Linked DNA regions of Homo sapiens: region 2 is linked to region 1. A link means that fine-mapping ties the variant in region 1 to the expression of a gene that starts in the linked region. Tissue or cell type: whole blood. Region 1 holds a variant in brackets; the other region holds the start of a gene. All regions are shown on one strand. Distances are between the middles of the regions.

The links. PIP is the estimated chance that this variant, and not a neighbour inherited with it, causes the effect.
Region 2: it holds the start of KLHDC1, and the variant in region 1 is fine-mapped to the expression of KLHDC1 in whole blood (INTERVAL, PIP 0.94).

Annotation. Positions count from the first base shown.
Region 1 is chr14:49,730,077-49,735,076 of GRCh38, reverse strand. It overlaps KLHDC1 (kelch domain containing 1), which reads right to left. Exons shown (of 13, transcript NM_172193.3): 9 at 2,261-2,373; 10 at 416-488. Among named protein-coding and RNA genes, the nearest start is that of KLHDC2, 36 kb to the left of the region's middle. The variant C/T (reference allele first, on the strand shown) is at 2,626.
Region 2 is chr14:49,690,694-49,696,062 of GRCh38, reverse strand. It overlaps KLHDC1 (kelch domain containing 1), which reads right to left and starts at 2,943. Exons shown (of 13, transcript NM_172193.3): 1 at 2,773-2,943. The coding sequence starts at 2,868. RefSeq lists silencers at 2,569-2,738, 2,749-2,798.

The sequences.
Region 1 (5,000 bases):
CATGGAAGCAAATTTCCTGATTAACTTGCTTTAAACCTCTTCCAAAAACAAATAACTACTATTAAAGCCAACCCCATTTTTGTCTGCTTATTAAAATTATTAACATTAAAAACATTAATCTCATATGATGCTTTTAATTATCTTAATCTTCACAGTTATCAGGCAAGATTATGCATTTACCTAAAAGAATAACATTTTCAAATATGCAAGTATGGGTGAAAACTGGATAGATCATTTCTAACAATCAGATATAATTAAAATAATAATTAAATTATTTAGGTAACATCAAGCTCATTTGAAAGATATCCTTCTCAATGGCTTATGGTTTCAATGGCAAACACTATAAATTCAGTACTATATTTTAATACTTTAAAAATTCTTAACTATTTTACTATTTGTCAATTTCTTGACTTACCTAGGTCTTGTTTTAGGTAAATGTGTAAGTTGTTTCCAACAATTTGTTGTGACATTATGAATCCAACCATCACCTGCAATATCATGACAGTTCAGAAATTAAGATTAGGTCTCTGGGATACAATTTTAATTTTCCCCCCAATTTATCATGCTACATTTAAATGACTATCTTTTCTGAGTGCACCTATTTTATCATACAAATTTTCAAACATTTACAAAAATAGAGTGACCATGACAATGAACTTCCATATATCGCAGATTCAACAACTATCAAGACTTTGCTACATGTGCTCCACTTATCTTTTTGTTATTATTGCTTAATTTTTCTAAATGAAATCCTAGATCTCACATCATTTTCTCCATACATACTTCAGTATGCATTACTGAAAATAAAAGGACATTTTTTACATAACCACAATGCCATTATCACAGTCAACCAAACTAAAAAAAAAGTCTTGGGATCATCTAATATCCATATGACCAAATCTTAGACTGAAACAGAATCTTTAAGGGAGGAAATTGACTAGCTTATGAGTTAGGACATTTAATTTCCCATAGGTCAATGACCAAAAACAGAAAACAGGAACTAAAAACACTAGAGATCATGAAGATATGATATTAAACAGCCCCTAGTGAAATGTACAGATGTTAGTTTTTGGTTAGATTCCAAATCTCTTTTAAATAAAAATCTCACAAATTGGAGAAGTATAATAATGTGCAAGAATAACTAACATCTCCTACTAGGAACTGTTGTTTCTCCAACTAACCTCTGGAATTTGTCTGACTGCCAGACACACAGCTGATGCTCAATAAACTTTTGTTGAAAAACAGTTGTTTCCAGACCCTAATATATAATTATATAAATGTTGTAATAGTGTATAATGTTTCTTAATGAAAACATCTCTAGCCAGAGAAAACTTCTGGGTTAAGAAAACAGAAAATGGCCAGGTGCGGTGGCTGACGCCTGTAGTCCCAGCACTTTGGGAGGCTGAGGCGGGTGGATCACGAGGTCAGGAATTCGAGACCAGCCTGGCCAACATGGTGAAACCCCACCTCTACATACAAAAATTAGCTGAGCGTGGTGGTGGGCACCTGTAATCCCAGCTACTCAGGTGCCTGAGGAAGGAGAATCGCTTGAACCCGGGAGGTGGAGGTTGCAGTGAGCCGAGATTGCACCATCCCACTCCAGCCCAGGCCACAGAGCAAGACTCCATCTCAAAAAAAAAAAAAAAGAAAAGAAAATAGAAAACATAAAACATCTAACATGCCAAATTAAGAAGTCAATATTCGTGGTCATCTGTCTATCTTGATGCCACAGTTCTACTGCTGAAAGAAAAACTGCATTCCAAAACCCATAGCCACTGGGATCAGCAATGACTGGAGTTTAAAAAACCTAGCTAAACACTTTCCTCTACAGCTCTGGAACAAAAAGAGAAGCAACTGGGCTTCCCACTTTGTATTTCCAGGGCCTTCTAAGAAAGGCTGCTCTTCCAATCCCCTAGCCTGGAGTACAGCAAAAGCGAACAGTGCAAGCATCCTACCCTACAGTACAAGCATCTGGATCAAAAATCAGCGGACACAGAATCACAGAATATAGTAGTATAAAGGGGCTTTGTTTCATCTAGCTTCAATCACCCTTCCTCTTCTCTTTCCCTAGAAAACAGGGGAACGTGGAGAGCCAAGGGTACAAAAGCAAGGAGATCATAATTCATGCAAGAAAATAATTGAGGATAAAGGCAAACCAGAAAAACAGGAAAAAAGGAAGATTTACTTCACTGTAAGTATGAAATACAATTAAGAAAAAAGAATGAGATAATAATTATAGGCTAAACCTTAATCAACTTACTTAATGGGATATTATCTGCACTTAGTCCACCACATAGGAAAAGTTTATCATCAGCTATAGGTGTTAAAGTATGCCATGACCGATGTTTTGGGCTTTCTCCATTAATAGTAATCCTGTGGCAAGGAGAAAAAGAAAGTCTAGGTACTATATTAATCAAAATAAAAGGTTTTTAATCATCTTAGATCTTAAAAAAAAAATCTGCCCTCACTGCTCCAAAAAACTTTTACTAGTCCCACCTACATGAATATTTGAAAAACATTATTAAATTCTTAGATGAATTTAAAAAATCTTTCCATTTAATGACCATTCCACCTGGCTACACAGTGAAAATAAAAGTCAATTCTCAGCCGACGCGGTGGCTCATG[C/T]CTGTAATTCCAACACTTTGGGAGGTCAAGGCGGGTGGATTGCCTGAACTCAGGAGTTCGAGACCAGACTGGGCAGCATGGTGAAACCCCATCTCTACTAAAATACAAAAAATTAGCTGGGCCTGGTGGCATGCGCCTGTAGTCCCAGCTACTCGGGAGGCTGAGGCAGGAGAATTGCTTGAACCTGGGAGGTGGAGGTTGCAGTGAGCCAAGATTGCACCACTGCACTCCAGCCTGGGTGACAGAGAGAGACTGCTTCTCCAAGAAAAAAAAAAAAAGTCAATTCTCCGTTAATGCACAATGCATACTCAGCATCATTCTTATTGGCTAATCAGCTGCTTCCTTAGTTTTTCAACACAATTTTTTTCATGTCTGTAACTTTTTACTGTTGTTTCATGGTTAATTTTGTGTTTTTAGCTGATTTCCCCAAGGATATTATGGGTTTTTATATTGTTGTTTTTTACTTTGATCTACTTCTAGAATTTCCCAAAACATTATCTTCCTCTGAAAATGCTAGCTATTCTAACTTCAAAATAAAAGCATGAAAGCCATTCCAGATACAGGGTAAACCTCTAAGGATTTCTCAAAAAAATAAAAATAAAAACAATGCCAGGCACAGTGGCTCACTTCTGTAATCCCAGCACTTTGGGACGCCAAGGCAGGAGGATTGCTCAAGCCCAGGAGTTGGACGGACCATCCTGGGCAAAATAGAGACATTGTCTCTTAAAACAAAAGAAAACAGAACAACAAGAATAATCATAATAATAAAAGGGACACTTAAAAGAGACGGGGCATGAAAAATAAAAACATAAGTTATAGCTGGGCCTGGTAGCATGTGCCTGTAATCCCAGCTACTAGGGAGGTTGAGGCAGGAGAATCACTTGAACCTGGGAGGTGGAGGTTGTAGTGAGCCGAGGTCGCGCCATTGCATTCCAGCCTGGGCAACAAGAGCGAAACTCCGTCTCCAAAAAAAATAAATAAATAAAATAAAATAAAAAAGCATAAGTTAGAAGCAAAAGAATTTAATTTAGGAGGTGAGAAGATACCATTCTTCCACAGTCTGGAATGTTCCAGAATAACACAGGACATTTTTGGAAGATACAATTTGTTTTTTACAAAACGGAAATATTTTTACTGTTTGTGTTGTTTATAAGAAACTTTTTTTTATTTTTTGAGGCGGCGTTTTGCTCGTTTCCCAAGCTGGAGTGCAATGGCGTGATCTCAGCTCACTGCAACCTCCGCCTCCCAGGTACAAGCAATTCTCCTGTCTCAGCCTCCCAAGTAGCTCTGTTTACAAGCATGCGCCAATACACCCGGCTAATTGTTTTGTATTTAGTAGAGACGGGGTTTCACCATGTTAGTCAGGCTGGTTAAGAACTCCTGACCTCAGGTGATCCACCAGCCTCAGCCTCCCAAAGTACTGGGATTACAGGCGTGTACCACTGCACCTGCCTGGTTTTATTTTTATTATTAGTTTTTGAGACAGAGTTTCACTCTTATTGCCCAGGCTGGAGTGCAGTGGCACGATCTTGGCTCAATGCAACCTCCACCTCCCGGGTTCAAGCGATTCTCCTGCCTCAGGCTCCCGAGTAGCTGGGATTATAGGCGTCCACCACCACTCCTTGCTTTTTTTGTATTTTTAGTAGAGCTGGGGTTTCACCATGTTGGCCAGGCTGGTCTCAAACTCCTGACCTCAGGTGATCCACCTGCCTCGGTTTCCCAAAGTGCTGGGATTACAGGTGTGAGCCACTGCACCCAGCCTAGGTTGAACATCTTTTAAAAATAATTTTTACCTATTATTTCTTCTGTGAGTTGTTTATGCATGTTCTTTGTCCACTTTTCTATTGGATTATTTGCCTTTTTAAAACTGATTTACTGAGTTCTTGTGGATCTTTGCCCTGACATCTCTCTTTTAAAAATATTGCAAATGTCAGCTGGGCACGGTGGCTCATGCCTGTAATCCCAGCACTTTGGGAGGCCAAGGTGGGCGGATCACAAGGTCAAGAGATCGAGACCATCCTGGCCAACATGGTGAAATCTCGTCTCTACTAAAAATACAAAAATTAGCTGGGCGTGGTGGTGCGCGCCTGTAGTCCCAGCTACTCCGGAGGCTGAGGCAGGAGAATTGCTTGAACCTGGGAGGCGAGGTTGCAGTGAGCTGAGACCATGCTACTGCACTCCAGCCTGGTGACAGAGCAAGACTCTGTCTCAAAAAAAAAAAAAAAAAAACCTGCAAATATTGTTTCCAGTTTTTTGTTTGCATTTTACAATTTGCCATTTAATTTTTTGTGGTACATTTTTCTACAGAGAAATATTTAATTTTTAAGTAGTCTTATCGATCAGTCTTTTCATTTATGAATTTTGAGTTCATATCA
Region 2 (5,369 bases), 39 kb after region 1:
ACAGAGTCTCACTCTGTCGCCCAGGCTGGAGGGCAGTGGTGCGATCTCTGCTCACTGCAAGCTCCGCCTCCTGGGTTCTCGCCATTCTCCTGCCTCAGCCTCCCCAGTAGCTGAGACTATAGGCGCCTGCCACCACGCCTGGCTAATTTTTTTTGTATTTTTAGTAGAGACGGGGTTTCACCATGTTAGCCAGGATGGTCTTGATCTCCTGACTTTGTGATCCGCCTGCCTCGGCCTCCCAAAGTCCTGGGATTACAGGCGTGAGCCAACGTGCCCGGCCAACAATAGATTTTTTAACGTGGATGAAACAGCTTTATATTGGAAGAGGATGCCATCTAGGACTTTCATAGCTAGAGAGAAGTCAATGTCCAATTTCAAAGGACCAGCTAATTCTCTTGTTAGTGGCTAATGTAGTAGCTGTCTTTAAGTTGAAGCCAATGTTCATTTATCATTCTGAAAATCCTAGGGCCCTTAAGAATTATGCTAAATCTACACTGCCTGTGCTCTAACAACGGAACAAGAAAGCCTGGATGACAGCATGTCTCTTTGACAGCATGGCTTACTGAGTAGTTTATTGTTGAGAACTGCTGCTCAGAAAATCTCACTCACTGCTCATTGACAACACACCTAGTCACCCAAGAGCTCTGATGGGAGATCTACAAGATTTATCTTTTCATGCCTGCTACACAATATCCATTCTGTTGCCCATGGATCAAGGAATCATTTTGACTTTCAAGTCTTATTATTTAAGAAAATACATTTCATGGCTGGGCACGGTGGCTCACGCCTGTAAAAAATACAAAAATTAGCCAGGCATGGTGGTGCACACCTGTAATTCCAGCTACTCAGGAGGCTGAGGCAGGAGAATCGCTTGAACCTGGGAGGCAGAGGTTGCAGGAGAGATTGTCTCAAAACACACACACACACACACACACACACACACACATCAAAACTGCATTGCATGTTACAGAGAAATATTTTGTGAAAGGAAGGCTCAATGTGGCAAACTTCATTGTCTTGTCTTAAGAAACTGCCACAGCCACTCCAACCTTCAGCAACAACCACCCTAATCAGTCAGTAGCCAACTACATAGAGGAAGACCCTCCATGAGCAAAAAGAATACAACTCGCTGAAGGCTCAGATAATCCTTAGCATTTTTTAGCAATAATTTTGAAATTAGGTATGTACAGTTTTTTGTTTTTTTGTTTTGAGACGGAGTCTCGCTCTGTCGCCCAGGCTGGAATGCAATGGCGCAATCTTGGCTTACTGCAACCTCCGCCTCCCGGGTCCAAGTGATTCTCCTGCCTCAGCCTCCCGAGTAGCTGGGATTACAAGCATCCGCCACCATGTCCGGCTAATTTTTGTGTTTTTAGTAGAGACGGGGTTTCACCATGTTGGCCAGGCTGGTCTCGGACTCCTGACTTCAGGTAATCCACCCGCCTCAGCCTCCCAAAGTGCTGGGATTACGGGTGTGAGCCACCGCGCCCAGCCAGGTATGTACATTTTTTTTTTACACATAATACTATTGCATGCTTAACACACTACAATGTAAACATGACTTTTATATGCACTGAGATACCAAAAAAATTCGTATGACCTCGCTTTATTGCAGTCATACGAAGTATTCTGCAATACTTCGAGGTATGCCTGTATGTTGGTCATTTCAATATGATTCAGTCACGTTACAGGTCTGTCACATAATGGTAGGGAGACAGAAGATGTAGGTTCTACTATCAGTAGAACTTCCAGATGGCTTAAGAAAAAAAATCTGTAAACTAAGAGGGTTGGCATATAGTATTCCTGTTTTCCAGCTTTACCATTCTTGCTTCTATAATTCTGTGATTATGGACACACAACACACACATACGCTCAAACCTCCATTGTAGTAAGAATTTTAAAGCATAATATTTCTTAGCATATTATTGCTAACATGCGTCTATTTTGAGACTAGAAAAAATAGTCATTAGTAAAGAAACGCCACTAAAAATAGCTTAGAAATATTTAAAATGCAAGCCAGGCACAGTGGCTAATGCCTGTAATCCCAGCATTTTGGGAAGCCAAGGCGGGCGGATCACCTGAGGTCGCGAGTTCAAGACCAGCCTGACCAACATGGGAAACCCTGTCTCTATTAAAAATACAAAATTAGCCAGGCATGATGGCACATGCCGGTAAGCCCAGCTACTAGGGAGGCTGAGGCAGGAGAATCGCTTGAACCCGGGGCGGGGGGCGGAGGTTGCGGTGAGCTGAGATCGTTCCATTGCACTCCAGCCCTGGGCAACAAGAGCGAAACTCCATCTCAAAAAAAAAAAAAAAAGAAAAAGAAAAGAAAATAAATATTTAAATGCTTCAGTGATTTCGATATTTTATTTCGAATCGCGCCGTGGGAATAAGGAAATATATACAAAATGATACAGCACGGCGTCCTCGGGTCCTTCTAGGTCTGCGCCAGTATTTAAGGATAATAATTAATCGCGCTGTAACTGCCTTTGCATTGGGCAAACCGTGGTTACTGAATTGCTGGCAAAGAGGGGCGGAGAGTGGTAAGAGGCCCGGAGCCGGGTCTGAGGCTTTAATAGAAGAAGCAACGGCGGGACGACGTCAAGCCCTGGCGCGGCTGTGGGGGCGGCGGCCAGCGGAGGGGCTGGGGGGCTGCAGGCGCCGGGCGCGCCAGGCCTGGGCCGCAGCCTCGGGAGCGGGTGTGGCGGGCGCTGCGTCCGCTCAGGCCGAGGGTCTCCCGGCGCGAGTCTACCCCGTCCCGCCTCTTCCCCTTACCACGTAGCCCCCCCACACGTAGAGGAAGTTTCCGTCCACCACGGCGCAGTGGCCGCTGCGTTCCTCCGCCACACAGAACAGCTGAGAGTCCGCCATTCGCGCCGTCGCTGGCCCGCCGCTTGCCGCGCCACAACCCCTGCCCGCCCGGCGGCCTCGCCTCCAGCCCCGACTGCTCCACGCACGAACGGAACGCGGCGAGGGTCGAGATTGGTGGGAAGGCGGAGCCAGTGCGTCTGCAACGTCCCGCGGCTCTCGCTCGGGAAGTCGAGCCAGGGGCGGCGCGGCTGTGGAGGGACGTTCTGGCTCCTCGCAGTGGGCAAGGGGCCTGGGCTTTCCACGCGCAGATTCCTTCTCTCTTGGAATTGTGTTTTGGCAGTACAGCCTCATTTAGTAGTCAGTCTGTAGTCAGATTCCTTGATTATCTCAAAATGTCTTTTCTATAGTTGGTTTGTTCAGCACCGTAATTCGTTGTTAACGCCTCTTAAGACTTTACGTCTGTTTTACTCTAGAATAGCTTCTCTCCCTTCTCTCTTGTGCCATTTGTTTGTTATATGGATTAGTTTTCTTATTTTCCTACAGCCGTACCACCTTCTGGGTTTGGTTCCTCAGTGTCTTTTCTCATTAACTTGTGCATCCTTTCCCCATACTTCTTTTAGGCTGGAAGCTGTATCTAAAAGCTTTATTAGATTCTAGTTCAGATTTTTTTTTGGAAAATACTTCATATTGCATCACATTAGAAGGCACTTAAGTCTGGTGCACTTTAATGATACTTTCTATTGTTTATTTTTGACTATACAAATAAACAGAGTATCTGCTCCTTTTCTTACACAAAAGGAAGTATATACAGTGTTCCTTAACTTTCTCTTTTCACTTGACGATCCATATCAGGATACAGCAAGCAGTCTCCTCAGTCCTTTTCATAGCTTCATAGCACTCCACCGATTGGATGTGTCATAGCTTATTCAAACAGATTCTTATTGATGGACATATCGGTTATTTCCAGGTTTTTTTGGCTATCATAAATAATGCTGCGATGAAACGTTATGCATATGTTATTTTGTATTTGTACAAGCCTATCTTTGGAGTAGAGTTCTAGATGTGGAATTGCTGGGTCAGAGGATAAATGCATATTTAACTTTACAAATGTAACTGGATTGCAGTGGCTCACGCCTCTCATCTAAGCACTTTGGGAGGATGAGGTAGGCGGATCACTTGAGCTCAGGAGTTTGAGACCAGCCTGGCCAACCTGGGCAATCCCGTCTCTACTAAAAATACAAAAATTAGCCGGGCGTGGTGGCGCATGCCTGTAATCCCAGCTACAAAGGCAAGAGAATCGCTTTAACCCGGGAGGTGGAGGTTGCAGTGAACCGAGATCGCGCCACTGCACTCCGGTCTGGGCGACAGAGCAAGGTTCCTTAGAAAGAAAGAGAGAAAGAGAGAGAGAGGGAAAGGGAGAGAGAAAGAAAGAAAAAGGAGGAAGGGAGGGAAGGAAGAAGGGAGGGAGGGAGGAAGGGAGGAAGGAAGGAAGAAATTCAAGATAGACAAAAGTGATCTATGATAATAGAAAGCAGAAAAGTGGTCATTTGGGAGTAGGGAGGGGGAGGGGACTGATGGAAAGGAGTACAGGAAGTGTTCTGGAGTGATTAAAATGTTCTGTATCTTGATTGAGGTGGTGGTTACATGGGTGTATACATTTATCAAAATGCATTGAACTGCATACAGATATGTGCATTTTACTTAGTGTAAACTATATGTCAATCATAATTCTCACTCCATCACTTTATTGTTACTAGTAATATTGGTATTGTATTTTTGAAATGGAGCATTTGTCCTCCTGGACTGTAGAGTCTGGTGGAGTCTATAGACCAGCAAACAGACAATTACCATACCGTGCAGTAAGTGTGAAAATAGCAAAAGTCCAGGGCACCTTGGGTGTACAGAGGCCCTTTAACTCAGATTGAGGGAAGACAGGGAAGGTTCCTGAGAGAAAGTAAAGTCTAAGTTAAGAACTGAATGATGAACGGAAGTTGTTCAAGGAACTTTCATTCGTGAGAGGGAAGAGTCAAGGATATGCCTAGTTTACCAGCTTGGTCACTGGGTGGGAGGTGGGTGGAGCCCTTCGCTAGGTTATTGAACATGGGAGGAGGAACAGGTTTGGGGGAGGGCAGGGCTAATGGTGAGTTCATTTGGAGGCATATTGAGTTGGATTTGAAGTCTAAGAGAGCTAAGGGCTAGAGATAGGGATTTTGGAGTCATCAGCATATAATTGTTCATTTAAGTATTGGGACTTTATGAGCTGGCCAGGTGAAGGAGCCATAGAAGAAGTTGAAAATTTATTAGAGAAAGAGAATTATGATTGGGAACATTTATGGGAAAAGGGGAATTGTGAGGTCAGATTGTGAGAGAAAGCTGGGCAACTGGAATTGATTATTTTCTCTCCAATTTCTTAATATAAAAAGTAGCAAACCAAAAAAAGTTGAAAAAATAGTTCAAAGAGTACCTGTGTATCTTCCACTCCAGGTTAATAATTATTAATACTACCATACTAGCTTTATGTTTGTTGGTATGTGTGTGTCTGTCTTTTTCATTTTGTTGAA